Homo sapiens: one gene and its partner. The protein of the gene in region 1 interacts with the protein of each later gene in a biochemical or structural test. Each region holds a gene or a part of one and is shown on either strand. Other genes may lie near its edges.

Evidence for each region.
Region 2: the proteins of SPIDR (region 1) and FIGNL1 form a complex in vitro, tested with the Homo sapiens proteins (one study listed by BioGRID).

Annotation. Positions count from the first base shown.
Region 1 is NC_000008.11:47,252,240-47,268,419, reverse strand, and holds the start of SPIDR (DNA repair-scaffolding protein), read right to left. Parts: upstream 7,483-16,180; 5' UTR 7,462-7,482; coding exon 7,429-7,461; intron 1-7,428. UniProt on the Homo sapiens protein: Plays a role in DNA double-strand break (DBS) repair via homologous recombination (HR).
Region 2 is NC_000007.14:50,442,086-50,457,662, forward strand, and holds FIGNL1 (fidgetin-like protein 1), read right to left. Parts: upstream 8,266-15,577; 5' UTR 8,216-8,265; intron 7,639-8,215; 5' UTR 7,033-7,638; exon of another isoform or gene 6,205-7,032; 5' UTR 6,096-6,204; intron 5,971-6,095; exon of another isoform or gene 5,883-5,970; intron 5,213-5,882; 5' UTR 5,203-5,212; coding exon 3,178-5,202; 3' UTR 2,048-3,177; downstream 1-2,047. UniProt on the Homo sapiens protein: Involved in DNA double-strand break (DBS) repair via homologous recombination (HR). Recruited at DSB sites independently of BRCA2, RAD51 and RAD51 paralogs in a H2AX-dependent manner. May regulate osteoblast proliferation and differentiation.

The DNA of each region.
Region 1 (16,180 bases):
TAATACTCTCCAATTTGTCTATATATTCAACAAAATCAAAATCCCAGATGGCTTTCTGCAGAAATTGACAAGCTGCTATTATTCATATGGAAATGTAATGAACCCAAAACAGTTAAAAAAATCTCAAAACAGAAAACAAGTCAGAAACTCACACTTCTAATTTCAACACTGCCAAGTTACAGTAATTAAAACAGTATGGTACTAGAATAAAGGCAGACATGGAGATCAGTGGAATAGAATTCATAGACCAGAAACAAACCTTTACTTTTATGGTCAACTGATTTTCAATTAAAACAAAAAAGTGCCAAGACAATTCAAGGAGAAAGAACAATTTTTTCAACAAACAGTGTTGAAACAACTGGGTATCCACATCGAAAAGAATGAAGTTGTACCCCTACCTCACAGTGTGTAGAAAAATTAACTCCAAATGAATCACAGACCTAAATGTAAGAGCTAAAACTGTAACTCTTGGAAGAAAACATAGGAATAAATCTTTGTGACCTTGGTTTAGGCAATGATTTATTAGACATGACACCGAAAAGCACAAGAAACAAAAGAAAAAACAAATTGGACCTCATCAAAATTATTAAAAACATTTGTACTTCAATAAGAAAATGAAAAGAAAACCCAAAGAATGAGAGAAAATATCTGCAATCATACATCTTATAGGGGAACAGTATACAGAATTTTAAAGAACTCGTGATTCCACAATAAAACAGCAAATAACCCAATGAAAACGCAGCCAAATAAGCTGAATAAACATTTCTTCAAGAAGATACAGAAATGCCCAATAAGTACATGAAAAGATGCTCAATCTCATTAGGGAACTGCAAACCAAATCACAGTGAGGTAACACTTCATAACCATTAGGATGACTAAAAGTAAAAGACAGGCAATGGCAAGTGTTAGCAAGAATGTGGCAAAATTAGAATGTTCATTCCTTGCTGGTGAGACTGTAAAAGGTGCAACCACTTTGGAAAATTCTAACAGTTATCCAAAATGTAAACATACAGTTATTATGTGACCCAAAAATTCCACTGCTAGAGAAAGAAAAACTTAGGTCTACATAAAAATGCATATACAAATGTTCAACGCAGGCCAGGTGCGATGGCTCACGGATGTAATCCCAACACCTTGAGAAGCTGAGATGGGAGGATCTCTTGAGCCCAGCCAGGAGTTTGAGACCAGCCTGGGCAATATAATGAGACCGGATCTCAATTAAAAAAAAAAGTTCAAAGCAACATTATTCTTAACAGCCCAAAGGTGGAAATAATCCAAATGTCTATCAACTAATAAATGGATTTTTCAAATGCAGTATGTCCATGCAATAAAAAATTTATTCAAAATAAATAGGAATGAAGTACTGATACATGCAACAACATGTATAAACCTGGAAAACATTATTTTTAATGAAAGAAGCCAGTCACAAAATGACCACACTTTATATGAAATGTCCAGAATAGGCAAATCCATACACACCGAAAGTAGCTTAGTGGTTGCCAATGGATGAGGGAAGAGAGAATGGGGAGTGACTGACTAGTAATAGCTATGGGGTTTCTTTTTGGGGTCATGAAAATATTCTACAATTAGGAACATTTGTACAACTCTGTAAATATACTAGAAACCACTGGATTTTCCACTTTAAAAGGGTAGATTTTATTATCTATAAAACTGAATAACAACATTGCCAATGGGACTGCAAAATTATACAGATATAACCACTTTGGAAAAGTTTGTCAGTTTCTTATAGAGTTAAACATCAAATTACCATAGGTTCTGGCAATTACATACTTAGGCATTTATCTCAGAGAAATGAAAACTTATGTTCACACAAAAACCTGTACACAAATGTTTATAGCAGTTTTATTTGCAATAACCAAAACCTGAAAACAGCCTAGAGGTCCTTCAATAATAAATGTTAATCCAAACTCTGGTATATCCATTATATGGAACACTACTCAGCAATTAAAACAAAGAAACTATTGGCCAGGCACAGTGGCTCATGCCTGTAATCCTAACACTTTGAGAGGCCGAGGTGGGTGGATTGCATTGCCTGAGCTCAGGAGTTCAAGACCAGCCTGGGCAACACGGTGAAACCCTGTCTCTACTAAAATACAAAAGATTAGCCAGGCATGGCAGCAGGTGCCTGTAGTACCAGCTACTTGGGAGGCTGACGCAGGAGAATTGTTTGAACTGGGGAGGCGGAAAGTTGCAGTGAGCCGAGATCGCGCTATTGCACTCCAGCCTGGGCAAGAGAGTGAGACTCCAACTCAAAAAAAAAAAAAAAAAAGACAAAGAAACTACTGATATGCACAACAACTTCGATAAATCATGAGAGTTTTATGTTGTATTAAAAAAAAAAAAACTTCAGACCGGGCATGGTGGCTCACGCCTGTCATCCCAGCACTTTGGGATGTCGATGCGGGCAGATCACCTGATGGTATTAGGAGGTGGGGCCTTTGGCAGGTGATTAGAAGTTACGGGATTGATGCCCTTATAAAAGAGACCTTGGAGAGCTCCTTTACCTCTTCCACCATATAAAGACATGGTAAGAATATGGCTGTCTGTGAACCAGAAAGCAGGCCCTCACCAGACATGAAATCTGTCAACACTTTGATCTAGCAAGGCCCAGCCTCCAGATTTAGTTTATAAAACAATTATTCTCTATATTACTCACAATTGTCTGTGAATTTACAGTTATCTCAATAAAAATAAATGGAATGAGATGTGCAAGGGACTGCTGAGTTTTACAACAAACTTTTTTTGTACTATTTTACCTTACCTATGAACATGTATTATTTTGACTAAAAAGAAAACATGTTTTCCCTTAAATGAGGTACTCTATGCAAAGTGCTTGACATATAGAAAGCTTTCAATAAAAGCTCTCTTTCCTCTCTTTCCCTTTGGTTTGAGGAATAAGACAACCTCTAGGCCAGGCACAGTGGTTCACGCTGTAACCCCAGCACTTTGGGAGGCCAAGGAGAAAGAACGGCTTGAGGTCAGGAATTCGAGACCAGCCTCGGCAACACAGCAAGACTCTATCTCTACAAAATAAATTTAAATATTAGCCAGGCACAGTGGCATGGCCTGTGGTCCCAGCTACTCAGGAGGCCGAAATGGGAGGATCACTTGAGCCCAGGAGCTCAAGACTGCAGTGAGCCATGATAGCACCCCTGCACCCCAGCCTGGGCGACAGAGTAAGACTGTCTCAAAAAAAAAAAAAAAAAAAAAGACAACTGAGATGTCAATACTAAGTAGTCTAATTCTGAGATGTAGAGCCACCAGTAAATCATTCAATGAGACTATCAAGGCCTTAAACTGGAACCATGAGGTACTCCTACCAAGATAACTATGAGAATTTCCTGCCATCACTGAAAAACTTGAAAATGAGCCTTTTTCCTATTTCTTGTTCAAGAAGCTGAAAGACAGCAATTCCAGGGAAATCTAGAGACAAAGCAGTAGAGGATGTACAATATCTTTGTCCTCATATGATTTCTTTAATTATCATGGTGTTTCATTATTAATTGCTTTCATTATCACCAACATTTATTGAGTGTTTATATGCTCGGTATATCATCGCATGCATTCTCATAATTTAATCCTCACATCAACCCAGCAATATAGGTATTAACCCCATTTTATAAAGAAACGACAACTCAATGTTAGGTATATTGCCCTATTCAGAGAACTTGAACCCAGGAGACAGTGGTTGCAGTGAGCCGAGATCGGGCCACTGCACTCCAGCCTGGGTGGCTGAGCAAGACTCCATCTCAAAAAAAAAAAAAGAAAATCTCAAAAGGCAAGCTGCTGCCCAAGAACAGGAGTATATGTGGTCGTCCTTGGCTACTTCATAAGGAAAGGGAGAACACAAGGCACAAAGGGAAGAATCACAGCATGTTAAGGGATAGTGAGGGGCTAGGGCAGGAGAAACTCATGGAGGAGAGGGGAGTGAGGAAAGAACTAAGATACCCCAGCCTTTGAGCAACTGACTGCCCTAATCTCCCTGGGACTTAAATACCACATATCTATATATGTGATATATAGGATATATCTATATATCCTAACATCAGTTAAGAGGCAAACAACTTTCTCACTTCTCATAGGTTCGACTTTCTGAATCACCATGGGTTTCCTCCTCTTCCTCTTTCAATTGCAGTTGCCTAAATCTCACCTTCCATTTGTAGTCTGTCAACCCAGTCCTTTCTATTCTATTCCTAATTCCACCACCTTAGTCCATAACCACACCACCTTTCATCTTAAGAGTCGTGATATATCTGTGTGGCTTGTCCAAAACTGCAAAATCATTCAGCTGTACTGCTGAGGCAGATATCCGAGTCTTCGGACTAGGGTATTTCCTCCTGTTTCTTCACACCTGGAATACTTGCAAATCTTCTAAACTAGTTCTCCTTTCATTAATTCATCAGATATCTAGTACATACAAGGGATATGACAGGTATTCTGGGGAATATGGGCTGAAGAAATAGTCCCTAATCTTAAATGTCTAGAATATAAGGGAATAAAGGTGTAGACACAAATAAACCTAATGTAAGACATGGAATAGTAAGAGTTATTTACATAAAATTCCACAGACTACAGAAGAAAGTTCATTTACAGCTGGGATAATTTGGGAGGTGAAATTTGGGGTGGGCCTCAATGGATGACTAAGATTCCAATCAGCAGAAATGGGAGAACTGGCATTATTCCAAACCAAGAACATACAGAAGAAAGTTCATTTATAGCTGGGATAATTTGGGAGAAGGTGGGATTTGAAGTAGGCCTCAATGGATGATTAAGATTTCATGGCCGGGCGCAGTGGCTCACGCCTGTAATCCCAGCACTTTGGGAGGCCGAGGCGGGCGGATCACGACGTCAGGAGATCGAGACCATCCTGGCTAACACGGTGAAACCCTGTCTCTAATAAAAATTTAAAAAAAATTAGCCCGGTGTGGAGGCTGGCGCCTGTACCGAGATCGCGCCACTGCACTCCAGCCTGGGCGACAGAGCGAGACTGCGTCTCAAAAAAAAAAGGTTTCAATCAGCAGAAATGGGAGAACTGGCATTATTCCAAACCAAGAACATACGCAATTACCACCAAGGGGCAAGCAAGTACAGTGACGCAGTAGTCTAGTTTACCTATAAGATAAATAATGAGCAAAGCTGTAAAGGAATAAGACACAGATATTATGGAGGCTGTGAATAACAGGCTGAGAGCCTGAACAAAAGCAAGGTCTGGGGCAGACTACCTGGATACAAATCCTAGCTTCTTCCCTTAACTGCTGTGTGACCTTAGGCAAATTACTTAGCCTCTCTGCTGAGCCTCAGTTTCCTCATCCATAAAATGAGACTAATGGTATCTACCTCACAGGACTGTTAAAATAATTAAATTAGTTAATACATATAAAGCACTAAACACAGGATAAGTTCTGCAGTAAATTATGATGTAGCCAATAAGAAGTAAAATGAGATTTAGATAGAGGACTAACAATATAATCAAAGTAGTGCCTAAGGGAAAGTCACCTCTGAAGATGGAATGGGAGCATGCTAGCCGGCACTACACATCAACACTCCAACCATTAAGTACTTTTGAGACTGACCGAGGGAGACAGAAACAAAAAATAAATTCCTGGGAAATACTGTGGAAGCCAGCCTCCAAGGTGGCCCCTGTGATCCCCACCTCCTGGGGACCCTCTATAGTCTCCTCATACATTGTACCGGGTTGGTCCATGTAATGAATAGACAGGAGATGGGATGTCACTTCTGAGTTTAGGCTATAAAAGACACGGGGACCGATATCTTGTTGCTCTCTCTCTTGCTCTTGGGAAAGCCAGGACCCTGTTGTGAGCTGCCCTATGCAGCTGTCAAGAAACAACCACGTGAGTGAGCTTGGAACTGGATTCTCCAGCTCCAACGACCCTTTATTTGACTGCAGCCTTGTGGGAGATCCTGAACTACAACCACTTAGTTGAGCCGTTCTCAGATTCCTGAGTCTCAGAAACTCTATGATATAATAAACATTTGTTATGAACTGCTTCAGTTTTCAGCAACGTATTACACAATAGACAACTGTACGACTACTAAAAAAAATTGAGTAAAAAAAAAGAGTCTTGAAAAATGACAAGATGAAGAGACCAGAAGTGAACGTCAATTCAAAAATACTAAGATTTCTAAGTCAAGAGAAACTGTTAGGGCCTGGAGGACTAAGGGTGAGATGATGATTATGTGATGCACTAAGTTTGAGCTCTAGGGAAAGATCTAATATAGATCTGAAAGTCATCTATATAGTTAACTTCAATGTATGACATTGTCCAAAGCAAATATGGAACATGTGAAAAAGCACAAGGTCAAAAATTAGAACATGGCACGAACACAGTAAAGAGAAGAAAATGAGCTGTTGCAAGACAGGAAAACAATCATGGATGTTCCAAAAGAAATAAAAGCAGGTGGTGAATGTGTCAAACGCTCCAATGATCAAGTAAACAACTTACACTGGATTTAGCAAATTTATATATTTCCTTGATTTTTTTCACACATTAATGCTTCAGAAATCAGACTGTATCTTATAATCAAGAGGTGCCTGAAATGAATTTCTTTATTCCCTAAAGCCAGTCACAAAACTGATAGTGTGGGCTGATAATCAATGGTATTTGAGAAGCGAGAAAGCATGGTAGTGGTAAAGAAGTTGAACCAGTATATGTGGTCTATTTTTTCCAGGAAGTTTTCAAGTAAAGGCAAGAGTCAAGAAAGGAGGTCCTGTGTTTGCTTTTTAAAAACCGTTTTACTATGAGACAAACGTATTTGAAAGCAAGGAAGTTAGAAGAAACTTTAAAACGATAAAGGACACATGCCATGACAAGCACAATTAGCAGAACAAAAAAGGATGCACTCGCGGATACAGGTGCAATCAAACACCATTCAAGCAACGATTCCTAGGCACCCGCTCCCGTTCTGGAACCCGAGGCAGCGCGGTGCCCACGGATTGGGCAGTCAGCCGCACAGTCCCCTCCGAGTGCGGCAGGAAGAGAGACAGAGTTGACAGTGGATTATCCGCGGAGACGGGTAAAACCACGCCAGGATTCCCTGCGGTTTGGTACATTACACCAGAATCAAAAAGAGACAAGAGTAAGGCCAAGTACCCCCGAGGCGGACATATGCTCCCGCCCGCTGCGTCCCTCGGCGGTCCCACCCCTCGCTTTCCGTACCGCCGCTGAGGGCCCGGCCCGCACGCCTGGACCGGAGCCGGACCTGGGGGCGGTACCCCACTGCGCGGGCTTGCTCCACGCGCGCAGACGGGACCCGCCACCACCTAGCCCTTCACCCCCAACGCCCACCCTCTCTCACCCCAGCACAACGGGGCCAGCCCCGCGCCGGCCCGCCGCTTCCCCGCAACGCGGGAAACGGCGCGGCGCCCACTCCCGCCCCAGAGCCTACCTTAGAGCCCCGAGCGCGGCTGCCGCGGGGCATCTCCGGGAGCGCCGCCTGAGCGCACCGCCTCCTCAGCGCGCCGCCGTCCCACCTCGGCGCGCCGCACCGCGCCCTGCCATTGGCGGGCGCTCGGGCGCAGGGCGGGGCTTCGGCGGGGGGCAGGGCTTCTCCGGCCCCGGCGCTCCAGGGCCTCCCGGATGGCCTAGTCGGGCCCGGAGCCCGGAAGGAGTGCCCCGCGGAGAGTCGAGCTTCCTTCCCCGGGGCTGGGGGTTCCGCGGAGCTCGCTCTGGGCTGTGGCGTTGCTCGCCCGCGAGCTCCTGGGGAGTTCGGGGGAGCTGCTGGGCTGGTGCCTGGAGCGGGGGCCGCCTCCAAGTATTGTCTTTCGAATTAAGTTACTGTCGTCTGTGTTGTCAGGCAACAACTGACCTTAAATAAAAATGAAAACCAGAAGTAGGCTACACATGCAATAGGCTACACATGCAATAATGGATACTTAAGGAATGGGAGTGGCTGCTGGTGACTGGAGCAGAGAGGGTGTGGTTTCCCCATGTTTCGGGGCCGGGGGGAAGGAGTAAAGTCTGTGTTCAGAGCCCAGACGCCATGTCGGTCATCACATCACCGGGAGAACTCGTGGAGCCTGAGGAAAGGCTACGGGGTGCCAGAGTCTGAAGGGGCGGAAGATTGCATTCCTATCACGTTCGCCGTGGCGCACAGGGGCTCCGCTGGGGCCGCCGCTCCCGCAGGAGAAGTGGGCCTGAGACGGTGCGGCGTCGACCATAGCCGGCCCAGCAGAAGCCGGGGAAGGCCACAAGTGTAACTGGGTCCGAGTACTGTGAAGAAGGCGCCTCCCATGGAGAAAGCTACCGGGTAGTTTAACAAGGTGGAAAAGCGTTGGCCTGGGGAGGAGGAAAGGATGCTCAGAAAGTTGCCTCAAAAGGACGCAGAAGTGGAGGTGAATCTTCTGTTTCAGAGGCATTTTTTTGTGCCTCTGTGAGAATGCATTGCTTCCTGGTTGATCCATCTTCAGGTTTTCTCTCCGTCCTAGTCCCTGTTCTGCCACCATTCTGTGTTTGAATCTGGTACCTAAAGCCGCAGATACTTGGTTCATAGTAGATGTCCACTCTGCAGTGGCTGAAAACACGGAAGAAAAACCATCTTTGCCTGGGAAGGACATTATTGCTAGTGCCATTACTGTCAACAGTTGGAACAAGATAAACGGCATGCCCAATCTAGTTGAGGATTTTGGACACCGGGCCTCCCACTGGGACTCCGCCGAGAAACCAGGTCTGCCATTGCCACCTCCGCCGGGCCTTGCTGTCTTAGCACAGTAAGTGCACCCGACCGCGCCCGGAGTCCCCCTTTCACTCCCACAACCAGGCCTGTGGTGAGGCTCCCGCTTGTCATCTCCACCAGGAGGTGCTGTCCTGCCGAAATGTTGGGGTTTTTCTCCAAACTTCCTCCTGTTCAGAATTCGCCATCTCAGTAGTGGCATGGACATCCACCTGGCCACAGCTCACGCAGAAACCTAGGAATTTTTGTGAACACGTTTGTGTGTCTTACTAATGTGTCCACTCTCCACTACCACTGTTTCCCAGGCCACTAGTATCTTTTGCCCAGACTGCTAGTAGCTCTTAACCCATGTCCCCTAATCCACTCTTGCCCCTCACACAGCACACACATACAATCCATTCTCAACACAGACACCACAGTGAGGTTTATGCTGTCTATACTGGCCTTCCCTTTCGGTGGTCAAACGTGCCTAGCTCCTGCAGCCTTGGGGTCTAATAAGCATTTGCTCTTCCTTTTGCCTAAAAGGCTCTGGCCTCCCTCTGCCATGCCATTTCCTATGCGCCTGTCAAACCTGAACCTGGTGGCCAGCTTCCCTAAACTAGCAAGCCTGAACCTCCCTGCTCTTCCATGTCCGCAGGACCTCATGCTCTGTTGAAGATGTTATAACAATTAGAATCTAAATAATTACGAAAGTTATTTGTTTACCATGTGGTTCCACCTCCATGCTGTAAGGTAATACCATTTCTATCTTCTCCGTTTTTGTATCTCTATCAGTTAGCACAGCGTCTTCCATATACAAAGTACTCAGTTATTTACTATGGATGAACTGCTAATTGTGAAACAGAAATGACTTGCCAGAGGCTGCACAGCTAGTAACTGTTCAGGATTAGAACTCATATGTGATACCAAGGTCGATGCATTCTCCACTACACCAATCAGATCATAGTAGAATCATGAGGAATTTTTCACTTGAACATATGAACTCAGCAAAAGGGAACTGTTGATAATAAAGATGAGCCCCTGCAGAAAGGGTCTCTTAAGTCCTCTCCAGTCTTGCCTCATTTCCTCCTCAGCAAACACTCAATGGCAAACATCAAGACAAACCAGAAAGTCCTTCTTTTAACTTTTTTCTCATCAAACTTTTTGGCCTAGTTGCTGTTCTGCAGATATCTGTGGTCTTCACTCTGCTTACAGCCATCCTAAGGATTCCATGGAGATCCATGGAGTCTGGGGAGGGTGTGACTCACAGGAGGGTCTCTGCTGCACCTTCAGGGCAGCTCTCTTCCATCTGTCTTATATATGGGGCAAGATTGTATTTAAAGAAAGATCTAATATGGGGAGAAATGTTTAGAATCTACTCATCCATATTCTTTTTTAGTCTGGTAGATGACAGTGCTCTAGGCTATAAATGAATCCAAGATTTAAACGTGAAAAAATGTCAAGGTATTAGAATAAAACATGACCAGATTCCTTTATAATCTTAGAGTGGGGGAAAGGGGAGAAAGTCTTTCCAACTATGACTCAAAATGTCCTAGTCGTAATAGGAAAGATTGATCGATTCAACTACATAAAAACCCTAATTTATGCATGGCAAAAAAAACACAGTAGGCAAAGACAAATGGCAAAATTAAAGAATAGTTCATATTGATGTTATATAGAAACAGCCCCCTAAAGTATAAATTACTCTTGGAGGAGTAAGCAAGAGTATTCCTTGGGGGAAACCCAGTAGAAAATGGGCAAAGGACAAGGGCAGTTCACAGAGAAAGGAACACAAATGGCTTTTATACATATGAAAAATGTACTGTCTCACTCATGACAAGAGAAATGCAAATTTAAACTGCACACCTACCATATTGGCTAAAATCTAAGTCCTGGACAACACATATTGGGGTAAGGGCCCTCTAATGTATTGCTAACAAAAGTACAAAATTATGCAACTCCTATCAAATATGCTTCAAAATTATAAGTGTATTTACTCTTTAAGCTAGCAGTCCTACTTCTGGAAACTAATCCTACACATACACCTGCACACATATTGTCTTAGTCTGTTTTGTGCTGCTATAACAGAATATCTGAGACTGGGTAGTTTACAAAGAACAGATACTTACTTTCTCACTCTGAGAAATCTGAGATCAAGGAGCTGGCATTTGGTGTCTGGTGTGGGCCTTCCTGCTGCATCTTCACATGGCAGAAGGCAGAAGGGCAAGAAAGCAAGCTAGCTGAATGCTGCGTGAAGCCTCTTATAAGGGCCTTAATCCTATTAGTGATGGAGGAGCCTTCATGGCCTATTTGGCAACACCTGAATTTTAGAGGATACACATATGAAATGATAACACATGTGAAATGATATGTATGTAAGGGTATTTTTTGCAGCATAGTTTGCAATAGCAAAAGACTAGAAAAAATTGATATATTTGTTTACTTGGAGAGTAAGGAGACTGTTAAATGTGCCATGGTAATACCTTCATAATGATCTCCAGCTTTACTAAATGAAAAAAACAATTGACAGAATATGATTCATAGTGTGCTGCCTCTCTAGTGCAAGAAAACAGGAAAAGACCATATATTGCTTATATCTGCTTGAAGAAATGCTACATCGAAATAGATGTATAGGAAATAAAAGGGGTTACCTGGTGGAGGGGAGGAACCAAGTGATTGGGATGAGGGGAGGAGGACTTCTCCATCTCTACTTTTTTATGTTGTTTTGTATACCTATTTTTAAAACAGATTGAAAAATTAAGAAAAATGTGTACTTTGTTCTAGAGTGATGATGGTTGTACAACTGTGAATATTGTAACAAATCACTGAATGGTACACTTTAAAGGGTGATTTTATGGTATTTGAATTATATTTCAATAAAATAATTATTTTAAAAATGTTTGGTGAGGGGCTGGTAGCATCAGCAGCATCTGAGAAATTGTCAGAAATGCAAATTCTTGGACTCCATACTAGACCAATTGAATCAGAAACCTGGTGGACAAGGCCTGGCAATCTGTTTTGACAAGCCCTTCAACTGACTCTGATGCATGCTCACCTGTGAGAAGCACTGGACTGGATGCAATTGCACGGAGTAACAGGCTGTTGCACAGTGGTCTCCCACAAAACATCCGACTAGGAGATCCGTGCACTCAGGGTGGGAAGAAAAGGCCTTGTCAGCCTTTTCTTTAATCATTGACTACAATAATGTTAATAATAATAATATGACATTTATATGTGCAGGCAATGTTAATCCCTTTATATGAAATGAAAATAGTGCCTCACCTGATGGGTTAGAACACAGCAGATACATAGTAAGTGCCCAGGAAGTGTTAGCAATTATTATTATCATTTATCTCAGAAAATCTCTATGACAATTGTGTGAAGTACAATTATGATTACATATGAGATAATTGCACCACAGACATGTTATATAACTTGCAAAAAGCCACAAACCCAATAAGTGGTAAAGCCCAAAGCACAGAGGTTTTCAACTTTGGTGAATCTCACTTTATCTCTTTTTCCTGATCACACTTTGAGAACCATGGATCTAGGTTCTCAAAAGTATACAAATGGTTTATATATATATATATAAAAAGTAGGAGTGGAAAATAGAGTCAAATGCAGATTATTCAAGGAATGTGCATTCATTCATTCAACAAACAAATATTGAAGTTTACTATGTGCCAGGCCTATGTTAGGCCTTAGGCCTTAGTTGGTTTTCTTAGTCAATTTGGGTTACTATAACAACCCATCAACTAACAACCCATAACTGCATAGCTTAAAAAGAATAGAAATTTAGGCCAAGCACAGTCGCTCACACCTGTAATCCCAGCACTTTGGGAGGCCAAGGTGGGCAGATCACGAGGTCAGGAGTTCAAGACCAGCCTGGCCAACATAGTGAAACCCTGTCCCCACTAAAAATACAAAAACATTAGCCAGGCGTGGTAGTGGGGCCCCTGTAATCCTAGTTACTTGGGAGGCTGAGTCAAGAGAATCGCTTGAACCCGGGAGGCGGAGGTTGCAGTGAGCCGAGATTGCACAACTGCACACCAGCCCAGGCGACAGTGCGAGACTCCGTCTCAAGAAAAGAAAAAAAAGAATAGAAATTTATTTCTCAAAGTTCTGGAGGCTAAGAAGTCCAAGATCAAGGCTCTGGCAGATACAGTGTCTGGTAAGGGCCCATTCCTCATAGATGGCACTTCTAGTGTGTTCTCACTCACATGGTGGAAGGGGCTAGTTATCCCTTTGGGGTCTCTTTAAAGGCATTCACCCTATTCATGAGGGATTTACCCTCATTACCTACTCACTGCCAAAAGTCCCACTTTCTCTTTTTAAACTTATCTTTTAATTGACAAAAATTGTATATATTTATGTTGTACAACATGTTTTGAAATATGTATACATTGTGGAATGGCTAAATCAAGCCAATTAAAACATGCATTACCTCACATACTTAGGTTTTTTGTGGTTGAAAACACTTAAAATCTACTCTTAGCAATTTCCAAGTATATGATACATTTTGTTTGTTTGTTTGAGACAGGGTCTCACTCTGTTGCCCAGGCTGGAGTGCGATGATGCAGTCACGGCTCACTGCATCCTCAGCCTCCTGGGCTCAAGAGATCCTCTGCCTTAGTCTTCCAAGTAGCTGGAACCACAGGCGCATGCCAACACACTTGACTTTTTTTTTTTTTTTTTTAATTTTGTAGAGACAGGGTTTCACCATGCTGCCCAGGCTGGTCTCAAACTCCTGGCTTCAAGCGATCCTGCTGCCTCAGCCTCCTAAAGTGTTGGAATTACAGGCATGAGTCAGTGTGCCCACCCAATACATTGTTATTAACTACTGTCACCATCTTGTACAATAGATAGATCTCTTGAACTTATTTCTCCATCTAACTGAAATGTGGCCTATCCTACCCATCTCTCACCCCAACCCCTGATAACCATCATTCTACTCTCTGCTTCTATGAGTTTGACTTTTTTAGATTCCACATGTGAGATCAGCAGTATCTGTATTTCTGTGTCTGGCTTATTTCACTTAACATAATGTCCACCAGCTTCATACATGTGGCAAATGACAGGATTTCCTTTTTTTAAAACTGAATAGTATTCCATTGTGTATATATGCCACATTTTCCTTATCCATTCACGTGTTGATGGACACAGGTTGATTCCATATCTTGGCTATTATGAGTAATGCTGCAATGAACATGGCAGTGCAGATGTCTCTTTGACACACAGATTTCAGTTCCTTTGGGTATATACTCAGCAGTGAGATTGCAGGATCACATAGTAGTTTTATTTTTCAGTTTTCTTAGCAATGTCCATACTGTTTTTCCTTAATGGCTATATTAATTTACATTCCTTTTTAATGGCTGCATAATATTCCATTGGGTGGATTACTATTTTGTTTATCCATTAATCAATTGATGAACCTTTGTGTTGTTTCCACGTTTTGCCTATTATGAATAATGCTACGCTGAACATTTGTGGACAAGTTTTGTTTGAACACCTGTTTTCACTTGGGGGTATATATGCAGGAGGGGAATGACTAGATTATATTTACAGTTTTAGGTTTAACTTTCTGAAGAACCACAAAACTCTTTTCCACAGAAGCTGCACCATTTTATATTCCCTACAGCCATGTTAGAGGGCATCCTTGCCAATACTTATAATTTTCCCCTTTAAAAAATATTTTAACCATGCTAGTGGCTGTGAAATGGTATCTTACTGACTTTGACTTGTATTTCCATAATGATTAATGATGTTAAGCATCTTTTCATGTGCTTTTTGGCCATTTCTCTATCTTCTTTGGAGAAATATCTATTCAAATCAGTTGCCCATTTTTAAAATGGGTTGCCTTTGTTTTGGTTGGGAGTTTAAGAGTTTTTATTGTTTTGCCTGGAGTTATTACTGGCTAACACGTATCTGGGGTGTACCAAACTTGCTTTATTGAGGCAAAGTGGTACAATAAATTTTTTTTTAAATTTCTAAAATGAACTTTTAAATGAAAATCACTCACCACAACTTTACAGCACATTATCATTTGCTTTAGTGACACAAAATTAGGCTTAAATTACTGGGAATTTACAAATGCACTTTAGAGACCCTATTAACAAGAAGTCTCAACGAAGAAAAATTCAGGACCAGGTGGCTTCACTGGTAAAGTCTACCAAACATTTAAGAAGAATTAACACCCTGTAATCCCAGGACTTTGAGAAACTGAGGCAGGAGGATTGCTTGAGCCCAGGAGTTTGAGACCAGCCTGGGCAACATAGTGAGACCCTATGTCCACAATTTTTTTTTTTTTTTGAGACGGAGTCTCACTCTGTCCCCAGTCTGGAGTGCAGTGGCGTGACCTTGGCTCACTGCAACATCCACTGCCTGGGTCCAAGCAATTTTCCTGCCTCAGCCTTCCGAGTAGCTGGGACTACAGGCGCGTGCCACCACGCCCAGCTAATTTTTTTGTATTTTTAGTAGAGACAGGGTTTCACCATGTTGGCCGGGATGGTCTCAATCTCTTGACCTCGTTATCCGCCCACCTTGGCCTCCCAAAGTGTTGGGATTACAGGCGTGAGCCACTGCACCCGGCCCACAAAAAAATTTAAAAAAAAATTAGCCAGACATAGTGGCACATGCCTGTAGTCCCAGTTACTTGGGAGGGCTAAGGTGGGAGGATTGCTTGAGGTGAGGAGTTTGAGGTTGCGGTGAGCCATGATTGCAGCACTGCACTCCAGCCTGGGTAACAGAGTGACAGAGTGAGACCCTGTCTAAAAAAAAAAAAAAAAAAAGAAAGTAAAAAGGAAGAATTAACACCAGTTATTCTCAATCTCTTTTAAAAAATAAAATATGAAGGAACACTTCCCAATTCATTCTGTGAGGCCCGTATTACCCTGATACCAATGCCAGGCAAAGATACCATACAAAAAGAAAAATAGAAAGTAATTCTTGGATGTCACAAGATGGTTGACTGACTGGAAGCTCCTAGGTTCATCCCCAACTCCAACAAAAAATCAAAATATAGTGAAGAAACAACTATATTTCAATCAAAATAACTAAAGGAGAGCTCTGGAGAACAATAAAGAAACAGCAGAAACTCTGTAGAGTATGGAAACCCAGGATGGATGCACAGGGAAGGAAAGGATACACCTCATCTCTGCCACCCTATCCACTCAGGATCAGCTTGGAACCAGGAGAGCCTTCTTCCTGCAGGGAAAAGGTGAGCAGGAGGACCCCGGCAAACCCCATCACCACCGTGGACACATGCAATCTTCATTACCAGAGGCTCCCACAGTCCTCACAAGCTCTGAGCCCAACTGAGGGAGCTCCCCAGAGTTCATATGCTGAGCTATCTAAGAGAAAGAGCTGATACTGTGCCCTCCCCCATGGTCTGTGCTGCTGCTGCACTGCACCATCTTGGAACCAGAGCCACTGCTAGAGTGTGTTGTGCTCTGGGAGTGTGCAGCTATGTACCCCTTCATCCCTGTGGCTT
Region 2 (15,577 bases), on another chromosome or scaffold:
GCAACAAGAGCAAAATCAAGGCAGATTCAAAGAAGAGGCACAATCATAAAACATGAACCAGGCCTTTTAAATCTGTATTTTACTATTTAATCCTCACTCTCCAACAAGACAGGTATAAACTATTCTCACTTTAGAATTGAGATTGAATAATTAAGTAACCAACAGTCACCAGTAAATGACAGAGCCAGAATTCAACAGGTCTATTTGGCTCCACAGCCCATGATCTTTAGACTATGATTCCATTAAGACCAGCTTGTCAATATGAAAGGCACACCTGAGAGATATTTTAGAATTGAGAAAATGAGTTAAAATTTCAGAAAATTAGAAATTTACCACAGAATGAATACATATCAAAAGGATCATATATTATTATTAGATGTATAATAAAGATTTAAGAAGGCCTGAAATCATAAATTAGAATTACCATATTCATATCAAAATTGTTAAGCATTAATACCATAACCAAGTGACATGTTTAGTAAAATGTGTATTTCTACTAAGGGAATGTAATTTTTGAAGACATTAAATATCAGGCTAGCATTCATGTTTCTGAAACAATAGCTAAAGACAGGGCAGTGCCACACTTGAGATAATTTAATCCAAGATTATTATATTCGATGAAGACAATCGCATGTGGCGAGAGTAAGCAATCTTAAAGTTTCAGTAAGCTTCCTATCCAACTGCTTCAGAAACACTCAAAATCACAAAGTGTTGAGACAAAGAAAGCTTCTCTGTGGTATAACGTAGAAACAACAGTTGACTCCCCAGCTCAAATTTTCTTTCCAGCTTTAAAATATCCTGACTATTCCTTTCAGGTTTAGATTCTTATTTAACAGAGTAGACCTTAATTCAGGAAAGACCATTTCTTGAGCTAACAAGAGAGACATGGGCTCTGCTTAATCCAAGATGAGCTAAACCAACTAGACTTTCTCTCCTTGTCACAATTTCTAAACTCCATAGAAAGAAGTGGCCCTGTGGCTGGTGATCAAGGGAGCTTAAAGTCAGGGCTGGCAGAAGCTGTAACTGAAAAAAACTGATAATAAATATTAAGACCAAATTTCAGAGCTAAATAAAACATTAACAGCTAGAGGGCAAATGCTGATAAATCTAAATAGCTAGACCCAAGAAGGTGGGAGTGATCTGCAATTAAACACCAAGAAAGAAAAACTAGAGAATTCCTTGACATCAATACCAAAGAAACCAAGTTTATAGTGCTGTTTATATAGAAATAGAAAGGGATAAAGACAGTAATGAATATTGTGGAATGTTTTAGGATGTTAAAAGATATAACTAAGAACTGAAGACAAGAAGTTTAACGTCCAAATTCTAATAAAAAAGGCCAGGCGTGGTGGCTCATGCCTGTAATCCCAACACTTCAGGAGGCTGAGGTGGGTGGATCGTTTGAGGCCAGGAGTTCGAGAGCAGCCTGGGCAACATGGTGAAACCCCATCTCGATTAAAAATACAAAAATTAGCTGGGTGTGGTGGTGCAAACCTGTGGTCTCAGCTACAAGGGAGACTGAGGCACAAGAATCACTGGAACCCAGGAGGCAGAGGTTGCAGTGAGCTGAGATCACACCACTGCACTCCAGCCTAGGCAACACAGCGAGACTGTTTCAAAATAACCAAAACAAAACAAAAAATGAATTCTAATGAAAGACAATCACATATTACAAAGGGAAAAACTAAAAATTGCAACAATCTTTTAACATAAAAACAGAAGGCAAACCAAGAATAAAAATTTAAACTATATACACAAACTGTCTAAATTCAACAACTAAAAGTGTTTCAATTTGTCATTTCAAATTGCACTGTTCACAAGAGAAAACATTAGAACTTAAATATAACCTCCACGAGACCAAGGATATTTGTGTTGTTCATTGCTCTACGTTCACTACCTTCAGTTTTTTGAATAAATGCAAAAAGAATGCCAACAAATACCAAAACTGCCTACTGCCCAATGCTGCCATAGCTCTGATTCAGTGCAGATGGAGTTTTACACAGGAACTACTTTTTCAAGAGGACAATTTAGAATGCAAGCCAAAAGCTTTAAAAAGTGCATATTCTTTAATCCAGGAATTACTCAAGAAATTTATACATTTTTTAAAAAGATCACCAAATGCATCCCACATAGTTCCTTTACAATAAACAAAAGATAAACAACCTAGCGTCCTGTCCTATATGCGCTCTACCAGATGACTCAATTATATTCCATCCATCCATGGAATCCTAGACAATCATAAAAGGACATTTATGTTAACATGGAAAGTGAAGATACGCTTTGAAGAATAGGCTACAAGAGAGAATACATTACACAATCCTACTGCTGTATAAAACAAAACATCTGGAAGAATCTATGCTTAAATATTAATAGTGTGTCCCGCAAAGTGGTAGGATAATAGTGACTTTTATTCTTTTTACTTATCTCTATTTTCTCATGTTTCTGTAATGAACATGTTTCATAAAACAAAATGGGTCTGTTATAAAAATCTGAAAACTTGTTTTTGAAAGAGAGCAGTATTACAGGCTGTAGTGTCAAATAAAATATTAATGTTAAATATCACACGCTCCCGTGAAAATAACCAACATTCTTAATTAACCTTTCAGTTCTGTGAATCTAATACTAGATCACACCTTGCTATTTCTGAAAATGTTAGTCCTGATAAAAATTAAAAACCATAAAAGAGGTAACAAATTGGCTGAAGAAAGTAAAAATTGGCACTTTAGCTTTGAGATCTTAAATCTACTTAAATAACACTAAGCAATACTTTGTCCAAATGTAAACCATTATACTAGCTGACATTAAGAATTATGTGGCCATCAGAAGGCACTTTCTTCAATAAAAGATGAATATTAATCAGACACAACTTTATATGTAATCTTCAACTAAAAAAAATTTGAGCTCACTTTTCATGTTATATAGCTTCAAGATAAAGACTTCTTAGAAACAAAAGTTCATTCTCACTTTGTTCAAATAGGCTTACGTATCAGGTAATCACTGGAAAGCAAAACTTACATTAACATACACTATGTCAATCAGATGTAAAATCTGTGCTATTATTTGAAGTACAGAACTTAGAATATATTCTTAAAAATACAATTAACACATCCCCAACTTTCTATGCTAAAAAATAAAGAAGACTGTACTACAGAGATGCCTTGATTCCAAGTATCCCACTTACTTTCCACAACCAAAAGTTTTGTTCCAGTTTTCATAAAGCTCTAAATCTTTTGGAGAAACACTAGGTCGCACAGTTCTAAAAGCATTTTCAAAATCAATGTAAGCTATGGGTCGAACTTGATCCGGTGTTATGGTAGCAATGTCAGCAGTTTGTAAACTGCGAATAGGACCAAGAGAAGCCTCCCTGCAAAGCTGTGTCATGTCTGCTCCTGAAAACGCATCAGACTGCTGTACAATCTGTTCAATTTCTTCTTCACTGAGGCAACACTGCTCTTTGGACATTAGATTAATTACTATCTGTTTCCTGGCTGAAGCTTCTGGGAGGGGAATATAAAGCCTTTTCACCAATCTTCTCCGGGCAGCCTCATCAATTTCTTGTGGCCGATTTGTTGCTCCCACCACTAGGATACGATCTTCAGAAGATGTTGTTGCTCCATCTAATTGAACTAAAAATTCTGTTTTTATCCTTCTAGAAGATTCATGCTCACCATCTCCCCGTTGAGATAACAAGGAATCAATTTCGTCAATAAATATCACAGCTGGTTGCTGACACCTTGCAACAGCAAACAATGCACGGACCATTTTCTCCCCCTCACCTACCCATTTAGAAGTTAAGGATGAAGCAGAGATGCTAAAGAATGTTGCCCCAGACTGACTAGCAATGCACTTGCCAATTAGAGTTTTACCAGTCCCAGGAGGACCAAAGAGCAAAATTCCTTTAGGGGGTCCCCTTAAACCAGTAAAGATGTCTGGCCTCAACATGGGCCACACAACTATTTCCTTTATGGTGGCTTTAGCAAATTCTACTCCTGCAATATCTTCCCAATTTACTGGAGGTCCATGATCCATAATCTCATTCATAATAAGTTCAATCATCTTTGGCTCCAAGTTCTTCAGACGCTCATCAACTGGATGTGCTGGTTCTGTAGGTCCTGCCCCATAAGGCTTACATTGCATTCCTCCATTCTGCTCTCCCCCATCTTGCTTGGGTATAGGAGGAACAAACTTTCCAAGTATCCCTCGGGATCTACTAGCTCCTAGAGACTTTTTTACACCACCATATGAAGACCCTGATGCACGCTGAGGTTGGTGGTACTTTTTTTGCTGATCTACCCATAATTGTTCTTTTGCAGTTTTAAATGTAGGCAGGCTGCTATCCTCCTTTGGGCCATTATCTTCTGTTTTACTACAAGCCTTATTCAGTATTGGATTGGAAAGTGCATCAATGGTGCCAGAACCATAAAAAGACTTCCTCTGTGGATTTTCACAGGCAGCAGGAAAACAAGACTGGTTAGATAAGAACACATTAAGTCCTATGTTTTCTTTTGCAGAGCTGTGATTTTCCTTTTTGACATTTCCAAACAATGGTGTGACATGGAATTTTGCAGTAGCTGACTCACCTACAGGTGCTGAGAATGTAGGACAAGTCCTAGCAGTGTTAGTCACCATAGGTGGCTGGGCATTCTGAAGGAGTTTCAAACGATTGCTCTCCGGGAAGTCTTGGGTCCGGTCTCGATCATGAGCTGAGTTAGGTAATGAGTCACTCTCTTGAGAACTACCACAAACACTAAATTTAGGAAGATCAAAGACAGTGGCCTCCTTATGGATTACCACTGATGCAAGAGCAGGTTCCAACAGAGAGTCTTTGAATTTTTTGCCAGCTTGCATCATCTTCTGTACACTACTCATTTTGAAAACATTATTTATTGACAATCCAGACTGCCACTTGTCACTATCTGTTTGTTGAGATCCTGCCAAAGTTAAAATGTTTTCTGCATAATTATTCAACCCAGATTCAACATTGTCAGAATCAATAATTGCAGAATATTTCTCTGCATATTTTTTGAACAGTTTGGTAGCACAGACCTGGGAAATCTCAGAGTTTGCCCATGCATACTGAATGCGTAATATCTGTGCACGGTATGCATCTGCCTTCGGTCCGGTACATATGCCAGATGTAATTGCGAAGTAATTCTTCTGCCATTCACTCAGGTGCACAGATCTAGAGCTGGAGGTCTGCATTTTAGAGGTTCTATAACAAACAATAAAAATGAAAATCAGTATGAAGGAAAACAAAGAAAATACTTTAAATGTAATTTTGAAACTTCTGCTAATCTGAAGGAAGGGACACTGGACTTTTTATTTATAATGTAGATTTATAAGGACAGGTTATAAGAGAAATATCTAGTTAACTATAGATTTCAAGTATTCAAGACATATCAATATGAAGTCTTCAAAATTAAGGACTTGATTAAATAATAATTTATATGAGTTAAATTGTTCTAGTTACATAATTTTATCTGTAGGGAAAGCATTCATAAGGTTTAAAATTAATTTTAAATTTTAAAAACAATGGAACTATAGATACATAAAGCAAAACAAAATAAACAAGAGGTTTAAGTCTGATCTATAAAACTAGGTGAATGAGCTTAAGTGAGCTTTTTACTATCACTGATGGTTTATTTTTATTTTATTATTATTTTTTTTTGAGACAGTGTCTCGCTCTGTCACCCAGGCTGCTGGAGGGCAGTGGCGCTCTCAGCTCACTGCAACCTCCACCTCGCGGGTTCAAGTGCTTCTCCTGCCCCAGCTTCCCAAGTAGCTGGGATTACAGGCACCTGCCACCACCCCTGGATAATTTTTATATTTTTAGTAGAGATGGGGTTTCGCCATGTTAGTCAGGCTGGTCTTGAACTCCTGACCTCAGGTAATCCACCCGCCTCAGCCTCCCAAAGTGCTGGGATTACAGGCGTGAGCTACCGCGCCCAGCTGGTTCTTCAGTTTTCTTATCTGCAAAGTGAGAGGAACCATTGGAAGAATCAAATCAAGCAATGACTATGAAAATAATCTGAAAACTATCATTATCCTTATCACACAAATGTACAAACCGAGGCTGAGAGACTTAAAGAACTTACTTGAGATCACACAGCCAGTTATGAATGGTATCAGAAATCGAACACAAGCAGTTTCACTCCAGGTACTGTGCACTTCTGCATGTACACAATGCTCCTTGATGCTGCTATCCTAGGTCACAGATTGAACAGCATGGATCACAAATTTAAACTATGGCATATTTAAATGGTTTTAATAACATTCATGAATAAGTTCATCACCCTAAACAGAATGCCCTAGAATATCTGTTTCCTAATTTCACATAATTATTAAAAAGTGAAACTGTTACAATAAATGAAATAAGAGAACAAGCTAGCCTACTAGGAAAATGCTTTTACTTTAGATTTCTTCTGTCAAGTTATTCGCATAAGCTTCCTCACATTGTTACCTTTAAACAGAACTATAGATGTATCATATTGCTAGATATATAGAATTTACTTACATATCCACAAGAAAAATTTATGAAAAATTTTTGTTTCCTAACAGTATTTCAATTAAATGAAAACCAAGAAACCCTACTTTAGGTTCAAGTATTTGAAATTTTGCCTTCCAAATTACTTGTAAGTACAACAGCCAGGTTTAATGCAGCTTTTATCTCCCATAATGCCTTACAAAGACATTTGTCACATTGTAAGTAGGTGTTCACAAATCTTTGTTTAAAAAACAATTAGAAAACTTAAGATCCAGAGCTTTAAAGACACTGTAATTTATTTAAAGCTGTAAAGCTAAATAAGCTAGAGTCAAAACTAGATCTGACCTCTTCTGTCAAGCAGTTCATCCTTTTTTTCACTATACCATTTTGATGTTAAACTCATTTATACAATACTAGAAATGAGAAACTGAAAGAAAGGTGACTCAGAAAACACTTGACACAAACTTTCACAATTAATATTATCATTCTCTTCCTCTCCATGGCTTCATTCCCCTTTATCATCTGTTATCCTGAAATTTCTACCATACCTCAGAGTTCTAGTCACTGTTCTCAGAATAAACCCCCTTCTCTTTTCCATCTTCACCTTTCCTTCAATATTCATCTTCCAAGTCTTACTTCTTCCTTTCAATTCAATCATTTAAATGGCAAATAAGGATAACCAAAAACTGGCCATCACCGATCAGTGACACAACCATTGTCTTGTTTACCATTTCCAAGTCAATTTAACCTTTATGGCCTTTCCTAGATCTAAAAAGTATGATTAATTAGCACTGTCATATGAACTGCATTTCAATCTTCTTTATTTTGCCAATGTTCTGATTATTTTAATAATGTCATTATCTGTCTTCCTAGACAGTTGGCTTCTGCAGGGAGGAATTGTTTTCCATTCCATTCACATTGTCTTAGTACCTAGAATACAGTGTCCTTTGGAATAATAGCTACTAAAATACTGACGGAGTGCCTACTCAGTACCAAGCACTGTGCAAGCCTTTCATAGGATTCTGTTCTTGATGCAAAACGGGAGTTAAGAGCACAGGGTCTGGAGCCAGGCTGCCTGCTTTCAAATCCTGGCTCTATCATCTGCCAGCAGTGACTGCAGGAAAATCTCTTAATGTCTTTCTGCCGGTTTTCACCTATAAAAGAAGCGCAGCAACATCACTGAGCTGACAAGGTATTTTAATTCTGCAAAGCACTAGACAGAGGACTCAGCACTTAGAAAATACTCTATAAAATACTGCTTCTTCTGATTCCTCACGATGACCCCTGAAAGGTATGAGCCCTTCTTTCTCATCACAGAGATTAAGAGCTTGCCTGGGTCACAGGGGAACTGACTGACCCCCGCTGTGGGCGCCCAGAGCCCCGCTGGGCCCAGTAAATGCCTGCGGTAAGCGGCCCCGCCCCCGGACAGGCTCTGCCAAAGGAAGCCGCCCGCAGACCTGGCCCCGAGCCTGCCGTCCACGCCGGGCCCCAGCTTCCTAATCCTGGATGAGTCTGGTTCTGGGCTAGCGGGTCAGCCACCCTCCCGCTAAGACAGAAGCAAAAGGGCACAGCCACTGCCTGGCTCCCGCCTCCCACGGCCTCCCGCGAAGTCACCGCCCCGCGACCCCCAGCATTCCAGAGGCACACGCCCGCCTCTCCCCTACGCCCCAACCCTGATGCTCCACAGGGGTCAGCAGCGCCCCTGCCCCGCCTCCCGTCACCGCATCCTACCTGCGGCTGGTGTGGGACGCTGGCAGCCTCCGAAAAGCGCGGGGACTGACGTGCGCCTGCGCGCTGCTGTCGCCCTCGGACTCGCGCCGTACGTGCGTGCGTGAGTGCGTGAGTGCGTGCGTGCGTGCGTTCGGCGCGCGGGGCGTGGGCGCGGCACCTGGGCCCGGGCACCGCCACCTAGGCCCTAGCTCCGACCAGTGGTGTTCTATAAACGCTTATTACATCATTGTGCATAGGCTTCATTTTTAAAAGTACTCCCAAATAAATACAAGGAGGCGATGGAAATTGAATGAAGATTCGAAGGATTCCCATAGAGCGTGGCTCACTTCCCCTCACCGGGACAGCGAGCGGCGGCTCACCTGGGAGAGCAAAGCGTGGCTCTCCTGCGCCCACCCGGGAGAGCAAACAATGGCTCACCTGCGCCCACCCGGGAGAGCAAGCGTGGCTCACCTGCGCCCACTCGGGAAAGCCAGCCGCCATCCTGTGCTGCAGGCAGGGAGCGGGCGGCGGGAGAGGAGCGGATCCACTTAGGTCAGCGGTTAAAACGTCGTTACAAGAGGCCACCCCGGCATCGCGGGGCCTGTGGCTGCGCCCCCTCTTGAATTCAGGCCTAGCACATCACCTCCGCCCCTCGCACCCTGCAGTCTGCGCTCCATACAGCACGTGAGCGGGTGCTCAGCAATGTTCCCTGGCTGAAAGAACCGCATAGAGTAGCATGCAAAAATGACATGCATGTTTAAGATAAAATAAGGGAGAGGACACCTGTTCTGACTGAGTCTGGCAACTCAGATCTCCCCGCAGCCAACATCTACATTCCTTTGGACAGCTGTCTGCTGTGTAGGGACACCTCCCTGGAACTTTGAAAAGCACCCCATCATTACCTTCCACTTTGTTCTGGAGCAAGGTTTCAAAAGAAGAGTGCCGTATTTTGATTAATTTAGTGAATTGGATTTTCAGACACAAGTAAGAGCATCCACTCAGTGGCCTCTGCAGTAAATAATGATATCAGATCACATAACAAGAAGACTGGAGGTTGGCGGGAAATCTGGACCTGGTGACTCAAAGAAGTCATGAAGGACCATCTCTCCATTCTGCCACCTTCTCGCCTGTGGATTTTCCTCCCCAGGCTTGTCACTTCATTGTCGAGAGATGCCCTCACAATCCAAGCCAGGCAGCCTCACATGACCAGATCTAAAACACAAAGAGGGAGCCAAACTGAGAAAGGACCTTTTCCCTCTGAACACTTCTCTCTTGGAAAAAGAAAATGTTTCCCAGAAAGCCTCATAGCCTTCCTCTTATATCTCCTTGACTAACTGGGACCCGGATCCCTGGATATCCTTTCCTGAGAAAGAGAGGGTCTGGGGCAGGGGATAGAGAAAATGACTAGCAACTAGCAGCACATGATGTTTAAACATAAGATTTAAAGAAATGCAAGGCACAAACAATTTGAAGACTTTTTTTAAGTTTTTAAAATCTTCACAAAATAAAAAGGAATTGGACAATGCACTTTAAAAACTAGAAGACGTTTCACTGAAAACAGCATCTCCTAATTCATTTCATGGCTTAGATAGTAATAGAAAATTATTTTATTCTAATTCCATACTTTATCAACTAATTTTAATTATTTTATAATTACCCAAAATATGTCATGTAGAATGAAAATAAAAGAAAATGAAAACAGTTATATCAAGGCCAAGTCAGTTGTATGTTTACTGGCTATTTAGAAATTTCTAAATACGTGTATATTTAGAAATGACTATATAGATACTATTTGGGTAATGTTAGGGATGGAAAGTTTATGTCCCCCCAAAATTTGTATGTTGAAATCCTAAGCCCAATGTGATGGTTTTAAGGGGCGGGGCCTTTGTGAGGTGATTAGGTCATGAGAGTGGAGACTTCATGGATGAGAATAGTAAGTATCCTTATAAAAGAGACTCCAGAGGCTGGGTGCAGTGTCTCATGCCTGTAATCCCAGCACTTTGGGAGGCCGAGGCAGGTGGATCGCCTGGGGTCAGGAGTTCGAGACCAGCCTGGCCAACATGGCAAAACCCTGTCTCTACTAAAAATACAAAAATTAGCCAGGTGTTGTGGTGGGCACCTGTAATCCCAGCTACTTAGGAGGCTGAGGCCTGAGAATTGCTTGAACCCAGGAGGTGGAGGTTGCAGTGAACTGAGATCGCGCCACTGCACTCCAGCCTGGGGGACGGAGTGAGACTGTCTCCAAAAAATAAAATACAATAAAAGAGACTCCAAAGAACTTTCTAGCCCTCTTGCCACCACCTAAGGATGCAAAGAGTTGACAGCAACCTGGAAGAGCCCTCACCAGAACTCGACCATTCTGGCACTCTGACTTCCAGCCTCCACTGTGAGAAATAAATTTCTATTGTTTATGAGCCACTCAGCATATGGTACTTTGTAGCCCTAGACAGGCTAAGACAGGTAATTAGCAATTTTAGGTGATTTTCATCATCAAAATTTTCATGATGGCATTTTGGAGAATTCACATAAACCACTCTGTTACCCTCCTAAAAGTATTGCTCAAATACTGAATTATATTTATGCTTGCCAAAGTTAATTTTTTTCCAACAAGTAACACTAGCCACTTCATTTTGTGCTTTTGATACAAAAGCATTTCCCAATCCAGCGGCTTTCATCTTCTGGCCTGGTTGGCAAAAGTGTAACTCACTTCTGCACCCTCTCTGAACCCTAGTCTCCTCCTCAAATGTAAAACAGTAATAAACCTTTCTTACCCAGGAAGCCATTATAAGGATTATAATCAACATAAGATATAATTCTTTAATTATCAAAGCAGTTGCTGGCATGTGGCAGGCATTCAACAGAAACCGTGTTGCTATGTTATTTTTATTGTTACCATTAATATTCCTATTGGGATTGAAACCCTTATGTCATATCAAAACTTTTCCATCTTTGACAAATGAGACATATTAGGATAGTATCTTAATAATATGTAAGAGTTTAGTGCTTGAGCTATTCAATTATTAAACTTTGCTTCCAAGACCACAGACTGGTGGTATATACTGTGTGCGTGTGTGTGTGTGTGTGTGTTTGTGTGTGTGTATGAGAAAGAATATGCTGTTCTTTTCTTCTTCTGGGTAGAAGTTGTTGAGCCTTCAAGGGAAGAGGTTTTCACCTACAGCAGACAGTGCCAGTTCTCTTGGTGTGAGGGATTCTGGGAGATGGCTGCCCATTTCCATATTCATGAATTTTATAAACATGGTCTCAGATAAATGCAAGTGTACACTTCGGTGAGCTCATTTGTTTTTGAGCAGAGGGGATAATACGGCCCTAAATAATGTGCTTCCCTGTCAGCCAGGAGAGTTACATTCTGGAGATGTGTGTGTCGGTGGGTGCGGGAGGCAGGTGGTGTTGAGGAGATAGGGAAGCCAACAGGACAAAGCTCAGAGGGAAAACAGCCCAATCTAAATCCAGTTCTTTCTCTGTGTGGATTCCCACTGACTTCCAAACCTCTCAGCTCCCTGACTCAGTGGTAAGGAAGAAAAAAGTACCAGGATTGAGGGGATGGTGTTCTAGCCCTCCAGCAGAGGAGTAAGATGTGTGAGCCCAGGGTGAAGCAAGTGCACAATTTTAGTAAAAGATTTTCATTGGCCATACTGAATGAATCATAAAGGGATGTGAAGAGGCTACCTCTGGCATCATTGTCATAAACACAGCTGGTGAGGGGGGAGGTGGTGTTCTCCTGGTGTCAAAAGACAAAATTATTTACAGATCAAATTGGCTTTTATTCATGATTCATGAATCCAGTAGCCTCCATTCTATAAAATAGAATTAGAGTTCCCACTGGGGAATGGCAGAACAGTGGTTTTGTAAGGTGGGAACAAGGAAACAGTATTATTTTAAAGGTTGATTGGTTAGTGTCAGCTTAATTCAGACTACTTTTCTCGTCATGGTTAAAGCAAATGGGACTTCCTTATTACTCTGACTCAGGCAGACTGAACTCTTTCTGATGGGTTGCTGTGACTCTTGTTTTCAAGAAAAACTGGTCTATTTGGGGACCACCAGCTTTCTTAAAGTTTCAGCTTGGTTAAATGGCACTTAGCATGAGTGACTCCACTTTAGTTTGGTCTGTTGGGACCTAGTGCAGGAGCTCACTCTAAAACAATGCCCTCCCGTAATTTTTCTATAGCACCTGAAACGGGGTAGAGCAGAGATTGAAGGAAACATTTGCTTGGGTCGTCATTTTCCTCAAGGACTGCGCTACCAATTGGAGTCAACACTTCTAGGTGCCTCCAGTTTGGTACAGTATGTAAGGGGTTGAATTGCATCCCCCAAACAGATATGTTGAAGCCCTAACCCCTGGCACCTGTGAATGTGGCCTTATTTGGAAAGAGGGTTGTTACAGCCATAATCCAGTTAAGATGAGGTCCTTCTGGATTAGGGTGGGCCCTCATCTGATTGATTGGTGTCCTTATAAAGAAAAGGAAAAGAGTCACAGAGGGAAGAAGGCCATGTGAAGATGGGGGCAGAGATTGGAGTGATGCTGTCACAAGCCAAGGAATGTCTGGGTTACCAACAGCTGGACTTTGTAGACAGCATGGCCCTGCCAACACCTCGATTTCAGTTTCTGCCTCCAGAACTGTGAGAGAACACGTTTATGTTATTTGAAGACACTGAGACTGCCGTCCATTGTTCCAGCAGCCACAGGAAACGAATGCCCTGCATTCTTACAGCACTGCGGCAGGGGTGGAGTGATTAAGAGCAGGGGCTATGGAGTCAGCTTTCCAGGGTTCAAGTCCTAGCTCCACTGCTCAGGAGCCACTACTGAGAATTGTTCAGAATCAACCCAGCTGAGGTCTGAAGATCATTTAGACCGGAGCCTCGCCCACGGTAAGCACTGCCCAGGTGCCAGGTGTTATTATGGCTGGGCTGGCCAGTTCTTCCTCTTAGGTTTCCTTGCTTAGAGTTTGGGAAGGAAAAAATAACCCACCTTGTTGGTGTTTTTTTCTACTGTTTTTAGGCTGCTTAACCTTGCTGTTTCATAAAGTAGCCAAATTCTCTTATTTTCACAGGACATTGGAATCTCAGATATACAAGGAAGCTGAAGAATTTTCTAATTTTCAGTCCAATCTCATGGACTGAAAAGTCAGTCTCATAGAAGACTGACTTTCCGATGTCCCAACTCTTGGTTTTTTCCTATCTCCATTTGAGCACCTACAATGGAGAATTCACTGCCCTGTAAGAAAACACCTTCCACTTGCTGATAGGCTGACTTCTAAGTTTTTCTTTGTATTGAAAATCTGTCTCTTTCACTTTGTCTTTGGAGCTAGAGAGGAGACTCTTCAAATTAAAGGGAGTGTAAAATGTGAAGACAGCTGCTGAGTCCTCTTTGAGTCTGTCCTGTGAGACACCCTTCCATTTAGAACTCTTCCTGTGTGACTTGGCTCCTCTCTCACAACACCTGGGGACACATCCATCTCATAAATCCTGGGGTCTAGATCTCACTTCCACATTGGAGCACTTTGGGATTCACAAGGTCTGCTGCAATACAGCCTGCTCTGTTATCTTCTTCCTCTTTCCTCTACCATCCACTGCACATCTGTGCTCTGGGGAACCATTCACAAGTTTCTCTAAATTGGTAGCTCCAGATGTATCCAGTTTATGCAAGCAACTTACACTCACAGTGCTTTCTTATTAATTTTTTTCTACTACTTATTACAAGTGTAAGTTATGGCAAGTAACCCAGAGGTATTAAGGAAATAGATTTTGATATCAAATGCAGTTGAAAAGGCAAAAAAAAATTATAGTGTTTGACGTTTGGATATTTACATAATTTAGAAAAGCAATGAAATGATCCCTAGATAAAAAAGCCGTTAGTCAATGTTCATATCTTTCCTCAAATGTAGACTTTCTGAATTGCATACCAGCAGAATCAGTTTCTAATTTGTCATGTCTGTTGGATTTCTGAATTAAGGGGTGCGGGTGTGGAGTCAGTGGATATTAGAACTGCCCTCCCTTGGGGTCTTCTCCTCTCTTGTTTCTCTTTGAACTGTGGCACACCCTCATGATGATCAAGGGGCCACCCAGTGACACCTGCTCCCCTTTTTGTCTTGGGCTTTCCTGCAGGCTCCTTGGTGATGGGCATGTGGTCAGCAACAATGAGATTCTCCAGGTTTAGGGAGTATTGCTGTTTGCTGGATTTTAGAGAGGAGACATGTGATTCCAGGACAAATCTTTCATATCAGCTGTTAGTTGTGTCTAGATCAATCTGGGACTTTCCCAACACTAAGCAGGAGGGGCCTGTTATCAGGAGATACCAGAGGTCAGTAAGGAAACATCTAATTCCAGTGCCAGCAGCACTTTGTGCACTCTTTTTGACACTAACTTGAATATGTATTTAAATAAAGATGCTCTGTATTGACCACAGATTAGTCTGAATAATCCAAAACTTTAAAAACTTCCCCACATTGGATGTGGGGTCTAGGGGCCCCCTAGGGATGGTCTAGGGTCCAAGACTTTACCTTGGTAGGCAAAGATAGGGCTTTACCCAGAAGAGAATAAATGTCTTCACTGCCAGTTACCTTCAGAAATGGTTAATCCTGGGTAGCAGATGGCATCTTTTGCAGCATAGTTTACTGGGCAAGAGCATGGATTCTAGAGCCAGGCTGACTGGGCTCCAATCCCAGCTTGGTCACTGATTATATGACCTTGGGATAAATCACTAAACCTTGCAATGCCTCAGTTTTCTCACTTGTAAAATGAGCATAATAATTGAGCCCGCATCGTAGAATTTTAAAATAAGTATTAAATTAATACTTTAAAACACGTGTAACAGTGCCTGGCATACAGCAAGTGCTATGGGTGTGTTCTTGTTAAATAAACTGGGAGGAAGTTATTCTTCCTGTTTCTAGGGCTGGGGGATTCAGATCTGAGAACCACTTTATGGAGGAACCTGGAGAAGTCAGGAGGTGGGGTGAACTGCTATGAGTTACCTAGAAATGAGCGAGAAATCAGACAAGCTTTTCTCTCTGTTGGGTCTGTGTCTAAGCTGATGTCTTAGACTCTCCATCAAAAGGATCCAGCCAGTTCGGAGGGAGGAAATCTTCAGTCACTTGCTGGCCTCCTGCCCTGCTTCTGTACAGCATCCCCGTTGGCCCCTGCCACCCAGTCTCCTCCCTCCCATCAGGTCTCAGCCATCTTTCTGAAGTATATTTGTGGATGAGGCTGGATGAGCCCACTAAAGCAGAGAGCTGGTATCAATGATGTTGGTGGCTCACACTGGAGCCCTTGCAGCAATCTTAACTCACGGGCTGAAAAATAATCTTGTAAAATTTAGACATCCCAGCCTCAACTCAACCTGAGTACTCCACACTCCACTGGTCCTAT